2 linked regions of the Homo sapiens genome follow. The protein of the gene in region 1 purifies or fractionates together with the protein of each later gene. This does not show direct contact. Each region holds a gene or a part of one and is shown in the gene's direction. Other genes may lie near its edges.

Region 1 (8,515 bases):
TGGTAAGGGAGATAGATCTGGGTTGATTTCCCAGTGACTACTGTTTCTGTCTCCCAGCTAGCACCATGGGAGTGCAGAGGGGAAACCTCTAGATTCTCACTGGTCTTCCCTGTGAGAATTTGGTGGGTTTTCTGAAAGAAAAACCTGCAAGAGTATGAATGAATGAACTTATGACTATAGTCCCTAGAAGCTTTATGCATTCAAACTAGTATACACTCTTCCAGTAGCAATTAGTCAAAATTTCTAGTTTAAAGTTCCTACTAGCTTATTAAATATCTGCCCCAGGTAAGCAAAAGCTTAGGTTTTGTGGTCTCCTACAGACACTTATGTCTCTCCAGACTTCAGGATGGCCAGCTCTCCTGTGATCTCAGTTCTTCAGTGGGTTCATGAAAAACCCATTAATTTGTTGTCTGATCACCCGTTTTCTTACAAGGATGGAAGCTTTTTTTCCTGCTAGTTCATTATCTGTCTGAACTGAAACTGGAAGTCTACCTTATCATTTTAAAAATAGAAATTTCTGAAATATTTTATAACAATTTACCTGTCCCTTCACATCCTCTTTTTGTCAAGTACACATAGAAATGAATTTCTTTTTTAAAGGTCAAGGGTTAAGGAATAGATCTGGGAAATGCCACTAAGGTTTGGATCGGTGCACTTAGAACTGTTGTAAGTGAGAGGAAATGAAAGTATACGTACTGAAGGTGATTCACCTATTTGAGCTGCCAGTGTAAGATTTTTAATTGTTTTTGTTTTTTAAATTAATAGGTAAATGGATTTCGCAGTTATGTAGATCTTTATGTGAAAGACAAATTGGATGAAACTGGGGTGGCCCTGAAAGTTATTCATGAGCTTGCAAATGAAAGATGGGATGTTTGTCTCACATTGAGTGAAAAAGGATTCCAGCAAATCAGCTTTGTAAATAGTATTGCAACTACAAAAGTAAGTAAGCAAATTATTTGTTTCCAAGTCAGTGGTAGAACAGTACTTCAATAAAAACTACAAAACAAATAACAATATCCACAACCCCCAAAAAACCCAAATCTGTTTTTGTTAAATAAGAATTGACTTATGAAAACAAAAACCTATTTTCTATGAAATTGCTGTATTAAAATTTATTTAAACAATTATTGAGAAATAAATTTATATGACTAGTGTTTGTAGTTGAACATATTTATATTTTATGAAATTTAGAATAACAAATTCCTTTTTCTGTAACTTTTAGCCCCACCTTCCCCAACCTCTGGGGAGAGGAGAGGGGGCTGGTGACTGAGTTAAAAATCAATTATGGCTATGTGATAAAGCTCTGTAAAAACTCCTGAACAATGGAGTTCACAGAACTCCTAGGTTGGTGAATACATTTGAGGTGCCAAGAGGGTGGCATGTCTGGGTAAGGCATGGAGCTTTGTGTACCCTTTCCCCTGTACTATGCCCTATGCATCTCTTCCATTTGGCTATTATTGCTGGATCCTATATAAAAAACTTGTAAATGAAGTAAAGTGTGTTCTTGAGTTCTGTGACCTGTTCCAGCAAATTATCATTCCTGAGGAGTGGGTCATAGGTTCGTTAGAAGTACAGGAGGCCTAGGACTTGTAACTGGCATCTGAAGTGTGGGGAGTCCTGTGGGATTGAGCCCTTAACCAACCCTAAATACTTGTGCTAACTCCAGGTAGTTAGTATCAAAATTGAATTACATTGTTGAACATCCATTTGGTGTCTGGAGAATCAGAGAATTGGTTGCTGGTGTTGAAAGCACCTGAGAATTGGTGTTAGAATTGAAGTGAGGAAAGCAAACAAACAAACAAACAAAAAAAACACAGCGGTTGGTTTATTGGCTCTGTAGCCAAAATGTCTTATTTTTTTAAAATCTCAACTCTCGTTCTGAGACTCTATTACTCTTTTAGAAAATAGGGTTTATAATACAGATAAAGTATTTTGCTACTTTAACAATACAGGATTTCAGATTTCATATATTTTTTTTTCTTTAGGGTGGACGGCACGTGGATTATGTGGTAGATCAAGTTGTTGGTAAACTGATTGAAGTAGTTAAGAAAAAGAACAAAGCTGGTGTATCAGTGAAACCATTTCAAGTAAGGGATGTGTTATATATTGTACATGATGCATACATATGCATTATATATATACTGAATTACTAAATATCAGCTCTGATATTGACTTTTTTGGGTATGTTTTCAACAGGTAAAAAACCATATATGGGTTTTTATTAATTGCCTTATTGAAAATCCAACTTTTGATTCTCAGACTAAGGAAAACATGACTCTGCAGCCCAAAAGTTTTGGGTCTAAATGCCAGCTGTCAGAAAAATTTTTTAAAGCAGTGAGTAAAACTTGTATTTTTTTTATTGTTGTTATTAAGAGTTGATTAGGTAGTTTTCTTGATTTACTTTATTTGTGATTAGTTTCTTTCATCGTATTAACTGTGGGTATAAGCATGCTTGCACTACAAACTAATATGCTTAATTTGATAACTTTAAAGGGTAGACTTTAATGTTTCCTAAAACAATTGTTTTGCCAAGAACTAAAGTAGGGAATTATGTAACTAATTGCATTTTTAGCTTTGTATTGACCATTGTAAAGGTCAGATTTCCCCTAACAGATGTCCAGATCCTTATGCAACTCTTTCATCTTTTCTACTCTCATTTCAACTTGATCTACTGATTCTTATCTTTATACATGTTTAAAAATTGTGGTAACATGTATAACAAAATGTACTATTTTCTACATGTTCTTAAATTGCTTTGCTTTGCACATAATTTTTTTAGGCTACCTTAACTTCTCTAAAATAAGGTGAGAGCACAAATAAATAATGGAGATGAATCAATCACAGCCTCTCCTCTTTGGAATTTTGGTGGGGAAATGCTCTATAACTGCCCTAGAACTAATGTATTTCTCAAATTCCAAAAAGTAGATTATCAGAAACAAAAACAAAAGTTGTTTTTTAGGTTCTAACTTAAGGCCTGTAGAAATAGTACTTTTGGATCTAATCTTAATGAATTCTGAGTACAAATTATGCTATATTAATGCTTTCCCAAATTTCTGTCCTCATAACAATTGTTTCCTTGATGAAGTGATTTGATTTTAAATTTTATACTTTTTCATTTTAGGTGCACTAAGTTTAAATTTGACAACACAGTTCACCTCTTTTGTTTATGTCTTAAACATTCCAGAAAACTGTTTTATACACCTAACATCAAATCACCGAGGATGATAAAAAAACTTTTAGGACTTAGAGTTGGAGATGCTTAACTTTCTTTTCCTTTTTCTGTCTGGGTTAACATCTTGCCACAGATTGATTCACTGCAGAGTACAAACAATATGTAATGTTGAAATCTTTATTACCAAGCTATTTAAAGAATAAAAGTCTATTCATAAGTTACCAAGGTTATCCTAATGTTCCTTTTAGGTTAATACTTTTTGTCATAGTGAATTAAAGACTCACGTTTTGTATTGAAGGATATCAGAAATGTCAACGTCTGGAATTTGCCGGCTAGTAGGTTCATGTGTGGATCTGTTTTCACTGTGTTAATTTTAATAAAATTAATTTGTAACAAGAGCAATGCATATTCCTCATGGAGTTTATTATAATAGAATGTTTCTCATATGTAAAAGTTATCCTTTTTCATGTATTTATATTTTAGCTTTAATTTTACAGTAGTTGAGTAAAAGCTGATTAGCATGTATCATGATGCTTATCACCATTATTGTTTTGCCCTAAAATACCTTAAAATTGCACAGATTCCAGGTCTTGCATTAGGCCCTATACATTTTAGCTAAATGTATGAATTTTCAGCTTGTTTGTATACCATTATTCTTTTATTTTTAGGCCTCTAATTGTGGCATTGTAGAAAGTATCCTGAACTGGGTGAAATTTAAGGCTCAGACTCAGCTGAATAAGAAGTGTTCATCAGTAAAATACAGTAAAATCAAAGGTATTCCCAAACTGGATGATGCTAATGATGCTGGTAAGATTGATATTTTTAAATAAGATTTTGATTTAAGTTTCACTTTTATTTAGTTACAGAATTTTTTTATTTTCTACATATAGTTAGACTATGATTTTCCATTCAGAGTATGATTTTACTTCATTGAAATTATCACATACACAACATATTACTAATTTTCAGGGGATAGGAATTTAATAAAATATACTTAATATTTATACTGAGCAATAATGTAAAATAACTTTTATAGTCTTTCACTGTCAGCATTCTAATGTTAATTTTCTGACTTCATTTTTCTCATCAGTGAAAGTATGAGAAATTTTTACTATGTATAATTTTAAATTTCTCTCAGGTGGTAAACATTCCCTGGAGTGTACACTGATATTAACAGAGGGAGACTCTGCCAAATCACTGGCTGTGTCTGGATTAGGTGTGATTGGACGAGACAGATACGGAGTTTTTCCACTCAGGGGCAAAATTCTTAATGTACGGGAAGCTTCTCATAAACAGGTATGTATGTGTGTGTATATATATGTGTATACACACATGCACACATACATATGACATTTCTAATACTTTACTAAACTTCTCGAATTTTTAAATGTAATTTCTGACTCGTATATTTCAACACTTCAAACTACTCTCAGTGCTTTTCCTTTTTGAACAGATCATGGAAAATGCTGAAATAAATAATATTATTAAAATAGTTGGTCTACAATATAAGAAAAGTTACGATGATGCAGAATCTCTGAAAACCTTACGCTATGGAAAGATTATGATTATGACCGATCAGGTTGGTTTTAAAGTTACCACATATTTCAAATTCATGTCTTCTTCAGATTCTCCCTTTAATATTTGTTTTATGAGACTTGCCCGAAGATGGTATAACTGAAAGTGATTATACATCAGGAGGAAAAAATGAAAAAACCACGTCATTTAGTGGAAACATTTTTATGAAGCACATTTTACATTGTCTGATTTTTGGGGTAACTAAGGAGAATATAATACAGTGTGGTACTATAGCAGCCTACCTACAAGTAGGAACAAAATTATGGAATTAACAAGTAAGAAAGATTAATGATAAGGGTTAATATTTATACATGATGGCATGATTTGGAATGCACAAATACCAGGACTTAAATAGTAAAATGATGGTAATCGAGAAAGAACTAGAAAATTGAAAAGGAAGAATTTCAGATGCATTCAACTGTTTTCTCTTATGCACTCTAAAGTATTTGTAGAGAAAATCTGCAACTGAAAAAACTGCTATTAATATATAGTTTTAAGCAGAAATTTTCCAATTTTTTATCTAGGGAAGACTTGTGAATATCTGTATTACCTGGGTTTCCCTACCATTGCCCATTAAGGTGGCATTATAACCATGTTTTATTTTATGTATTTTCTATCCTTAAATCATTCTTTTAGTGAAATCTGGGGAAACTATAAAACAGATAAAATGATAATATATTTTTATAATGACAGATTCAGTCTATTACTACTATATTCTTTATTTGTGTATTAAAAAATTTAGTATGATCATCTTAATAGCTTTTGTAAAATGCATTTCTAAAATTCAGAATTTTGGTTTTTTGCATTCACGTTTTAAAATTTGTTTATATAAGTAATCATTTTATAAAAGTATTACAACATTTTTTACTTTACTAACATTTATTTAGGATCAAGATGGTTCTCACATAAAAGGCCTGCTTATTAATTTCATCCATCACAATTGGCCATCACTTTTGAAGCATGGTTTTCTTGAAGAGTTCATTACTCCTATTGTAAAGGTACTCTTTGCATTAATATATTTTTATATTGTTGTCTTAAAGGGTAGCAGAAAAACTAATTTTGTTTTTTAATTAATTTAAGGCAAGCAAAAATAAGCAGGAACTTTCCTTCTACAGTATTCCTGAATTTGACGAATGGAAAAAACATATAGAAAACCAGAAAGCCTGGAAAATAAAGTACTATAAAGGTTTGTATTTTAAAATACTTAGATTTTAAATACTGATATAAATGTATTCTTATGAAAGCAATCTAAAAGATGACTTGAAAGTTTGACTATTTTAGACTTCGAAAATAGCTATCACTGATTTTAAAGTATTGTTATAGAAAAATGTATGCAAGTAGAATAGTGTAATAGATTTCATTGAATGGGATCACCATTTCAATGGCTAGTCTTGTTTCCTGTAAACCTCCTTTATTGCCACTCCATTAGTTTGAAAAAACTTCCAGACATTATAGTCTAGTATTTCACCTATAACTACTTCAGTATGTATTTCTGAAAGAATTTTTTTAAGTAACCCATAATACCATTATCATAACCTTCTTTAATATCCTATTGTTGAGACAGGGTCTTGCTTTGTCACCCAGGCTGGAGTGCAGTAGCATGAACACAGCTCACTGCCGCCTTGACTTTCCGGGCTCAAATGATCCTCTTGCCTCAGCCCCCGCAAGTAGCTGGGACTACAGGTGTGTGCCACCACACCCAGCTAATTTTTGTATTTTTGTAGAGATGGGGTTTTGGTTTGTTGCCCAGGCTGGTCTTGGACTCCTGAGTTCAAGCCATCCACCCACCTTGGCCTCCCAAAGTATTGGGATTACAGGTGTGAGCCACCATGCCTGGCTCCCTTTTTTTTTTTTTTTTTTTAAATAATGTTAAATACCCAGCCAGTGTTAAAATTCCCCTGGACTGTATTAAAATTGTTTATTTTTAGAGTTTTTTATTTTTATTTTTATTTCGTTTTTTTTTAATTGTTTTTATTTTTTTGAGATAGAGTCTTGCTCTGTTGCCCAGGCTGGAGTGCAGTGGTGGGATCTCGGCTCTCTTCCTCATGTGTTCAAGTGATTCTCATGCTTCAGCCACCCAAGTAGCTGAGATTACAGGCATGTGCCACTATGCCTGGCTATTTGTAGTATGGGTGGGGTTTTGCTGTGTTGGCCAGGGTGGTCTAGAAGTCCCGGCCTTAAGTGATCCGCCCACCTCAGCCTCCCAAAGTGCTGGGATTACAGGCATGAGCCACCATGCTTGGCCTGAGTTTGTTTGTTTTTTTCCAAAGTCAGGATCCAAGTAAGGTCCACACATTGCATTTGGTTGATAAGTTTATTAATATAGCATTTCTCTTTTTATATTTTTTCCTTGTAATTTATTTGTTAAAGAAGTTGGGTTGTTTGTTCTGTGTAATATTCCACATTCTGGATTTTGTTAATTATATTCCTCTAGTTACATTTAATATATAGTATTTTCCTTTGCCCTTATTTTCTGTTAACTGATGGTTAAATCAGAGGCGTGATCAGATTTGGGTTACATTTGTTTGGCAAAAACATTTCATAGGTAGCGTTGTGTGCTTTCATCAGGAAGCATCTAATGTCTACTTTGTCTTTAGTTGCTTATTAAGATTGATCACTTAGTATAGGTGTTGCCAGCTTGATCCATCTATTACAACTTTTCCACCAGCTTTTTACTTGATGGTTTTAAACAGACATTGATATTCATGACTCACTTTTATTTTTAAAATTGTGCAGGATTGGGTACTAGTACAGCTAAAGAAGCAAAGGAATATTTTGCTGATATGGAAAGGCATCGCATCTTGTTTAGATATGCTGGTCCTGAAGATGATGCTGCCATTACCTTGGTAATTAAGTTAATTTTTTAAAAGCTTTTGTTAGCCATCCCCCTACCTTCTATTCCTTTCCTCCCAGTCCTGGTTCCCTATGATAAGTCTCTTTTGAATGCTCAAGCTAGTTAATTTTAATTTTTCCCCCAGATGATGCTGTGCTTGTATAAACTTCTTTAATTGAAAGACCTTAGTTTAAATGTGTTTTTGATTAAAATATTGTAAAATAACCTAATTTTCCAGAAATTAAGAATTAGTTATTGGCCACTTATACATTTTAATTTTGTAATAAAATTTATTTTATTTTTAATGTGCAAAATCGTTACCTGGAATCTTTCAGGCATTTAGTAAGAAGAAGATTGATGACAGAAAAGAATGGTTAACAAATTTTATGGAAGACCGGAGACAGCGTAGGCTACATGGCTTACCAGAGGTTAGTCTTAAAGAGTGGTGACCTGGGGAAAGAAGGAGAGAGAGACTAGAATTCATGCAGTAATAATGATAATATTGCTATATAACTTTTCTCTTAGCAATTTTTATATGGTACTGCAACAAAGCATTTGACTTATAATGATTTCATCAACAAGGAATTGATTCTCTTCTCAAACTCAGACAATGAAAGATCTATACCATCTCTTGTTGATGGTGAGTAATATTTAAAAACCTCATTTTTTAATGTTATTTACTATAGTTTAATTTCATGTACTTTAAGCCATCCTTATGATACATATTAAAATTCTTACTTTAAATCTTGTATATGAAGAGCTTATTCAGAGGAATTTAAGGCCTTTTTGATTTTGCTTTTGTTTTATGTTTTCATAGTGCTGAAATCTTTAATATTCCTTAATTTGAAACTTTTAAACCTTTTCCGAGTTTTTCAGGAAAATTAACTTTAAAAGTCTTAAAGCTTTTGCCCAAGTTGTCTGCAGATTTTCTAAAA
Region 2 (8,376 bases), on another chromosome or scaffold:
CTCCCAAATCCCATCCTCTAGTCATTCTTAGCACTCTCTTCCTTTTTTACTTGGAAGGATGTGTACATTAAGTTAGATGTTGAAATTCTTCTTTCTTCTCAGAAGATTCCGGCAGCGATGAAGATTTCCTAATGGAAGATGATGACGATAGTGACTATGGCAGTTCGAAAAAGAAAAACAAAAAGATGGTTAAGAAGTCCAAACCTGAAAGAAAAGAAAAGAAAATGCCCAAACCCAGACTAAAGGCTACAGGTAATTTCTGCAGAAGTGAAATTAAATTTACTGCTTTAAAAATTTTGAGAATCATTATTTTCAATACAGAAATTCCTCATTAGGATTTGGCATTGGCCTGATGTTTAGCAGGAATACAAGAAATCTAAAAGGGTCTTGTATTCTGCAACTGGAAGTATCTCTTATTAATAAAGACACTAGCCTGTTTAAGAGTCTAGTGGGCTTAGCCATGTTCTTCAACTACTGCCAGTACTTGAGCAAGATTTCAGAATGATCTATTTGTTTCAGACACAGTGGTAGAAACACTGTGTCATCATAGTTGTTACTGCTCTTTTTTCCTCACTGGTATCACAGTCTCAGCAGCCAGCAAAGACTTAATTGTGAAAATGCACAAACCTAGAGTAATACGTTTAAGTTCCACGTTCTGAACTCTACCCCATCCTCTGTGCTATCAGAATAAAACCACACTTGATGACATGAGTTGATTTTTTTCTGAGCCCTAATGGTTTCTCCTCGTTGGAGCTAGTTTGTTAACTAAATCAGAAATCAATTTGCTTTTTGTGTAGGTGGTTTTATTCTGTTAGGTAGAACTAGTCATTGTTAAACTTCTGTTTATCACTTCCTACTGTTAGGAATGATGGAACTATCAAATGTTATTTGATGGCTTTAGTTTCTGATCAGATTAATTCTTTTCCTTCCGTCTTTTTGACCTGCTTTTTATAAACAACTTTTATCATAAACAACTGTTAGTTTACCAAGCAATTAAGGATGTTGTGCATATTCTATAGCATGGTGCTTCTTCTTTACAGGTATTACTGCTAACATCATAGAGTGTTGGTAAAAACTGATGGGAAATACTGTAGCATAGTGTAGTAACTTATGACCAGTTTAGAAACTGAGATAGATTTACCTAGGGATATATGTGCTCCCTTGTGCCCACCTTGGTTTTTAGTAAGTTGCATATTGTCTTTATAGATTTTATTCTTACAGATTGTTGTATTTTGTAGCTGACTTTTATTAAAGACATTTTTTTCTCTTCCCTTCCCCAAATTATTTTTCTATTTTCAGTGACGCCAAGTCCAGTGAAAGGCAAAGGGAAAGTGGGTCGCCCCACAGCTTCAAAGGCATCAAAGGAAAAGACTCCTTCTCCCAAAGAAGAAGATGAGGAACCGGAAAGCCCGCCAGAAAAGAAAACATCTACAAGCCCCCCACCCGAGAAATCTGGGGATGAAGGGTCTGAAGATGAAGCCCCTTCTGGGGAGGATTAAAAGTGATGATGGTCTGGGGAGAGATTTTATTAAAAAAAAAAAGAAAAAAAAAGAAAAAAGAGGGAGGAAAAAAAAGAACCTACTTAAGATAGAACATGGTTTTGGCTATGGCTTGACTCATGGGCTTTCAGTGCTTTTTTCCATTTGTTGAAAGTAACATTTCTCTCTCTCTCTCTTTTTTTTTTTTTTTTTTTAAAGCAAACCATTGTATGTGTAAGTGTTTAAGTTACCTTTTTGTCTATTGGTCTCTTTGCCAGCCCTCCCCTTTCCCAATGAAAGCCATGTCAAATTAATCACTGGATTGACTGCTTCATCTTTTTATTTTTAATGAAAGGTGTACCACGGTTGTAAAGCAATAAGATTTGAGATGAACACTATTGAAACTTCGCTTTTTGCTAAAAAATAGCAAGTTGAATAGTAATCAAAAAACATAGAAAGATTTTAGTTCAAAATGATTGCTCCTTTCTCTACCTGGACTTTTAAAAAATCAATTGTCATCTAATATGAGTTTATTTGTCTATAGACACAAGTATCAATGTCTAAAAAAAATCATGACTTTAAACTTCCACCGATGAGGCAGGTAGGAGATAAAGATGAATTCTGAACTGTTACTAAAAGTACTCATTTTTTACCTTGTAGGGAGGGTGGGCAATGGGGTTACCTGACCTTATTTGAGGGTATGGGCTTTCTTTTTTATTTCATCACTTGTTATCTCAAAGAGACTCGGAGCCAGTGATCCTTTTATCCTGCTACAGTCTTTAGGGAGCTAAAAAAAAAAAAAAAGCAGGGGCTGCCAAAACTCTTGATTTCATATTTCCTTCTCTAAATATATATGTATCCTGTTTTTTGGATAAAATTTTACCAAGAATCCAAAAAAAAAAAAACCCTAGAATTTAATCAACAAGATCAGTCTACAGGTCACAGTGGATTTCTTTTCAAACTGACAATGTTTAGGTTTTAAGCAAATAAAGTTCCAGTTAATGTGAAACTCAGTCACAAAGAGTTGAGATTTTTCCTTTATGAAATAGAATTGACATTCTTTTATGCTATAAATGTGCATTCAGGTCCCATTAACCATGCTCTGCTTTTATTTGGGGATAGAACATTTTCTTTTTCATATCCCGATCTTCCCATTTCTTCATAGAAATGTGATAAGAAGTACATCCCTGTGATCCTGCTGCTTCGTAGAGCACCACTGCACACCCTACCCCGAGTGCCAACCACCTCTGCTATAGGACACTATTTTCCTGGCCCTATTCTTCACTTACTTCCCATCCTGTCCTTGACTAGGAATATGTTAAATGCTGCTCCCATACAATTCAGTTAGCTCTTGTCTTTTTATTTGGTCCAACCCCTGCTTTACTGCTCATGCTGCTTAAAGCAGGAGGGACTAGAGAAACAAGGCATTTTAGGAGGCCTGTGTGCAGTTGAAAACCGACTTTTACACGCCTTATAAAAGCAGTCAGGAGATAGATCCGTAGGTTTGATCCTTCACATCTAATACCAGGCGCTAATGGGAACAAGGTTTAAAGGGTCCTGGTATGCTAATAAATTGAAAAATTAGTGAAATTTAAACTTCTGCCTTTTTTTCCTGCCTTTTAATCTAGATTTGCTTCCTCAATATCCTACTTTGTGGTTTACTAGGAACATGCTTACTCTGATCTTTTTTTAAAAAACACACAGTGGCAGAGTCATTTCACTATTGCACTGTGTGTTAAAGAATGAATAAGGAGTTTTCAGTTACATGGCCAAAAATACAGGACTTGAACATAAATAGCAGTTGGATCATTCTCTTTCATGACGGTTAAATTCAGAGGTGTGAACTTTGTAATGAGGGTGTTAAAGATTAATCTATTTGCCTAAATGGGTTTGTTCAGGTATCCATTTTTAACAAAGAAGTTTGTGTTCATATAGTAAAAGACCTATCAGTGTTTCCACCATGCACTTCTATTTTTTAGGAGTTTATAATTTTAAGTCTTACATTCCTAGTAACATTTGGGCTTTTCTTAGGTTATGTTTCGTGAAGATTTGGGGGGAGGGCTCTTTTAAAACTTCAGCCTCAGTTGTTTAACAGTCTCTTTAATATATTAATCTGCACTAACATCTCTGTGATATATGCACATATTTTAGAGGTAATCATGTCTTCTAGATTACTTGTGTGCATTTGATTGGGCTTCTTGTTTAGGGTCCCTTTTAAAATTAATTCATTAGATTGAAAAATGTATTCTATATTTCTGATAGACTGGACAGAAGGATCTGTGTCCCCAAGTGAGACAGGCTCTGAATAACCTTTGTTTTCTCCACTTTTTATTGATGATTTAAAACACTCTAGTCTTCCCCTCAAATCATGCATGCAAATAGGAGGACAGTGGTGGTGACTCAACTGGATACAGGTGCTCAATAGTCAGGCTTGATAGTGATGTCAGGACGCATTACAAGCTGTAAGCCGATACTGACTGGCCATTGGCACCATCCTTGACTAACCTTCCTCTTTTTCTCTAGTGTGCCTATGGTGAAATGGCAATAGCATTCACTGTCGTATTTTGCAGTGCTCAGGAAGTGGGACGTTAACTTTGAAGGTGCTTGTTTGTATTAGCTCTGCTAGGTTTACCTCTACAACGTAGATTTCAGCAGCTATGCTGACTGACACTACATTCTAGTTCTTAAGATTTTTTTTCCAGATCCCCCCTTCCCCAGCTAGACATACGTAGCATACTTTCATCTTATTCAGTCTTTCTGTAACCTGCTGCTGCTTTTAGTCCTCCTCACCTCAGATCGGAATCAATGGAGTGGGCCCAGAGGATACATTTTAATTCCAGTAATGGTAGGTAGATTTGTCCTGCTTTCTAAAACATCTCCTCATTTCATATTTCCACTCCATATTGATTCCATAAGGGAAAATTAATGGGTGTTTCCTCCTTTAGGGAGGTAATGCAAAGAGTGTGGACATCTTCTAATCTTGAGGAACAGTAGTTGATTTCCCTTGAAGGAGCTTACATATTGACTGTTTTCACAATAACCTGTTTGCCCCAGTTCAATCCTCATTTTAATACTTAATTTGGTACTGGCTCAAATAGCATTTTCTTACAGATAACAAATCAAGAGTGAAATTTGAGGTTATACTCCAGTAAAGTTTTTAACACTTGTGAATATGGTCAGCTAGACTAAACTTGACTCTTTTTTTTAATGGCTTTTTTATCTGTGAACATTCAGATAAGTGGATTTTCAAGTACTGGTTGGGGATGGGAATCGTGCTTTTCTTTAAACTTCAGTTTACGAGATGCTTTGAGAGCGTTAGGCAAAAGCAGAAATAAATATCAGGAGCAACGGGGAAAGCTTTATAAAAGATCATGGTGGCCACTGTTGCAGCTTTGAAGAATGAGTGCTGGCTTGAACAGTTCTTTGCCTGCATCATTGGTAGCTGCACTGAAAGGAAAAAACTTTCACCTTAAGAATTTGAAAAGGAAGAAACCTGGGCTCTGGTCTTCATGGCATTTAGACTGAGATGCTTAAACAGAACAGAAGTAATACGCATTTCCTGCCATAGGATAGGGAAAATGTAACAAGCTGGTTGCTCTTGAGGTTAGAAAATTGTCTGTTTCTCTGTGGATGAAGCTGGATTTACTTGAAAATGGAGAGTTGGCTTATTGTTTGAATATTGGGACATCAAGCTATCTATAGCCAAGTTTCAGTCGCAACCAGTTTTCCCTTTGTCTGGGGTAAATTCGATACAAAATGATTCTTTTTGAATCCTGAATCCATAAATTACACTTTTTTTTTTCAAATTCACAAAATTCACAGTGGTGCTGACTGTGTAATAACCACTATTGGGAAACATCCCGTAAACCTGCCTGTTGCCATGCCAATGGAGTGACTGAACTGGTGACATCTGTTTGAGCATGCTTTGTGTGGCTGGTAGAATGCCACCGTTGTGCATACACTTTGTACATCAGGGGTGAAGGGAGGGTTTTCTAGATTATTGGGGGAGGGTAAAATTGGGATTTTTTTGTTGTTCCTTTTTTGATGGGGTGTGGGGGTATAGTACTCAGCTTATGCCCTAAAATAACATGTATAAAAACCCCTGAAGTATTGTGTGGGTGTGTACGTGTGAGTGTGTGTTTGTATACATCTGGCAATTAAAGCTTTGTCTTCTGGAACTTAGTGAATTCTTTTCTCTTTTTCCTCCAGAAGTATTTGTTACAAGATTTGTAAATAAGAGCTCTACTTAGTTTGTTTACCATGAACATGTTGCAGCAAACCTTATGCATCTAATTCCTACAAGGTTAAAGAAAGGCTTTTAGACTTGCCAGGTTAAGCAACAGCCAAGTTCTCAGTAATTGTTTGCCTTGATTTATCTTTTAGACTTCATTTTGCCAGCTCTAAAACTCCCAGTCTTCCTTGATTTTAGTCCTTAATCTTTTATGTTCTGAGCAGGAAGGGTAAAAGACAGGAACCTGCTTCACTGTATTAACTAGTCCATGGGCTGAGACCGGGGCATCTCTTTTCTTCATACTGCAATGTTGCTAGATACATGATCAGACACCAGAGGGTTGGGCATTCTTGCAATACCTTAACAGTGCTGAAATCTGCAGCATGGTACTAAGGAAGTTAAAGTTTGAATGTAACCACTTTATTTAAAAGGTTTTTTTCTTTAATTTAAATGAAATGGGGTTGAAGTGAACATGATTTTGTTGACCATGTTCGTGAATTACAGATGCAACATGCATTGGTAGAATCGTGTGATGGTCTTTTGTGATACTTAATTTTTACATATCCCAGTCTCTGTATGTATCTGCATAGACAAAGAAAAAACAAACTCCTGCTTTGCTTTTATTGAAGGGTTTCCAGGACTGCGTGTCTGCTCCTGAGCTCTGTTTTAAGTATGTGTATCCTTTGCTTGTATTTTGTATTAAAAAAATAAGAAAAAGAAGCCTTTATTGTTGAGCATGTTGGCATTGTCCCCTTTATTTTTTTCTCTTTTTGGGACATATGAAGCAAGTTATTCTTTTTCTGTATCTTTTTTTCTTTTGTAAACTTTTTTTTTGTTTTGTTTAAAAATGGCTTTATAAAAGGGCTTTTATAACCCAGATGTGTGCTCTGTGTACTTCTTGTAATACCTTAAAGCAAACACACTAACTTACACAGCTTTGTTAATCAGCTCCCAGTTCAGCCTGACTTTGTGGGAACTTATTTCCCTAATAAATTATTTAGAAACTTTAACAGTGACCATCCCTGTTGTTGGTAAAAGATAAACATGTCTTGGTTCAAAAGTTAATACCTCAGGATGGAATCAAGAAGCAGTAGACTTACCAGTTTGATTAATTAAGGGAGCACTGGACTGGGTGCGTAAGGATTCTTAATTAGCATTTTTTCTCATGTTTACATCCAAGGTTATGAAGTGTTGTGGAAAGCAAAGTTTAACAATCATATATAATAAAAGATAATGTTTATACTCACAGAACACACTTGCATTCAATTCCAAATACCCATAAGAACTACGCTGAATTTTGAATTAAAGATTACTTGTTAGGTGGACAATGTGGTACAAGATCCCTCTTTAGAACTGGGCTGATATTGTAGCTATTAGGGCTTTTTTCTTTTTAACTTTTCCTCTTGTTTACATACTTGCCTTGTCAGCCAAATACTATAATTGAAATGCAAATTTGGCTTTGAAATTAAATGCTTTGTGCATCCTGTTATCCGTCAGTGACTAGCTAACTTTTTAAATTTCTTTCTTTCTTTTTTTTTTTTTTTTTTTTGAGATGGAGTCTTGCTCTTGTCGCCCAGGCTGGAGTGCAATGACATGATCTCAGCTCACTGCAAACTCCACCTCCCGGGTTCAAGTGATTCTCCTGCCTCAGCCTCCCAAGTAGCTGGGATTACAGGCATACACCACCACACCTGGCTAATTTTTGTATTTTTAGTACAGACGGGGTTTCACTATGTTGGCCAGGCTGGTCTTGAACTCCTGATCTCAAGTGATCTGCCCACCTCGGCCTCCCAAAGTTCTAGGATTATAGGCGTGAGCCACCCCTCCCGGCCATTTTATTCTTTTTCGGAGATATGAGAGTCTTGCTATGTTGCCTGGGCTGGTCTCAAATTCCTGGACTCAAGGGATCCTCCTGCTTCAGCTCCCCCAGTAGCTCAGATTACAGGTGCAGGCACACTGCCCACATACATTTATTTCTTAATATAATGAGTTGTCTCAGGTTAAAGTTGAATTTGGATGAGCATTAACCATCTACTTTTCCTCATAATCCTTAAGTATTTTATGGATAACATAGACAATTTTATGTTTCAGGACAGTGCTGAAGAAATGCAGTCTGATTTAAAGGATTTCAAAAACCAACAAGTGGATAAACAGATGAAGAGAGGTTAAAACACACTTGGAGCTACCTAGACTCCTATCCATGAACATCGGTATACAGTACTACACTGTAGTTGTGCAACACATATTACCTCATTTAATTTTTCCAACAACTGTGAGATCGGCAAGTGTTTGTTCTTCCAATATTGTAAAGAATAACCTGGTTCAGGTAAGATGAGGTTTTATGTGGTACCTGATGTAGCTAGTATGTAGTACAACAAGGGTTTGAATCAGTGCTGTGTGCTTTAAGTTATCACAGTTGTTCGTTCTAAAGCCAGCTCCCTTTGGTATACATGGGTCCCTTAAGCCTTCTTCCTGGTATTGAGCTTTTGAGCATTTTGCTGTTCTCTCACATCTCCCAGTAACAGTGATACTTGAACCAGTCCAATGAGTTACATCAAAGATTTAATGGGGAAAGTCGGAAACTTCAATGAGTAAGGAGATTTCTCATTGAATACTTCGGTTTGCTTGAAAATCCTGGTGACCCCTAGACACAAAGCCTCAAATTAT

Evidence for each region.
Region 2: the proteins of TOP2B (region 1) and NUCKS1 purify together in Homo sapiens (affinity purification with mass spectrometry; 2 studies listed by BioGRID and IntAct, with this or other methods). This does not show direct contact.

What each region holds. Positions count from the first base shown.
Region 1 is NC_000003.12:25,626,265-25,634,779, reverse strand, and holds part of TOP2B (DNA topoisomerase 2-beta), read left to right. Parts: intron 1-765; coding exon 766-939; intron 940-1,985; coding exon 1,986-2,087; intron 2,088-2,196; coding exon 2,197-2,334; intron 2,335-3,840; coding exon 3,841-3,979; intron 3,980-4,310; coding exon 4,311-4,468; intron 4,469-4,625; coding exon 4,626-4,751; intron 4,752-5,634; coding exon 5,635-5,745; intron 5,746-5,827; coding exon 5,828-5,933; intron 5,934-7,483; coding exon 7,484-7,593; intron 7,594-7,915; coding exon 7,916-8,008; intron 8,009-8,105; coding exon 8,106-8,220; intron 8,221-8,515. UniProt on the Homo sapiens protein: Key decatenating enzyme that alters DNA topology by binding to two double-stranded DNA molecules, generating a double-stranded break in one of the strands, passing the intact strand through the broken strand, and religating the broken strand.
Region 2 is NC_000001.11:205,711,403-205,719,778, reverse strand, and holds the end of NUCKS1 (nuclear ubiquitous casein and cyclin-dependent kinase substrate 1), read left to right. Parts: intron 1-102; coding exon 103-252; intron 253-1,299; coding exon 1,300-1,499; 3' UTR 1,500-6,957; downstream 6,958-8,376.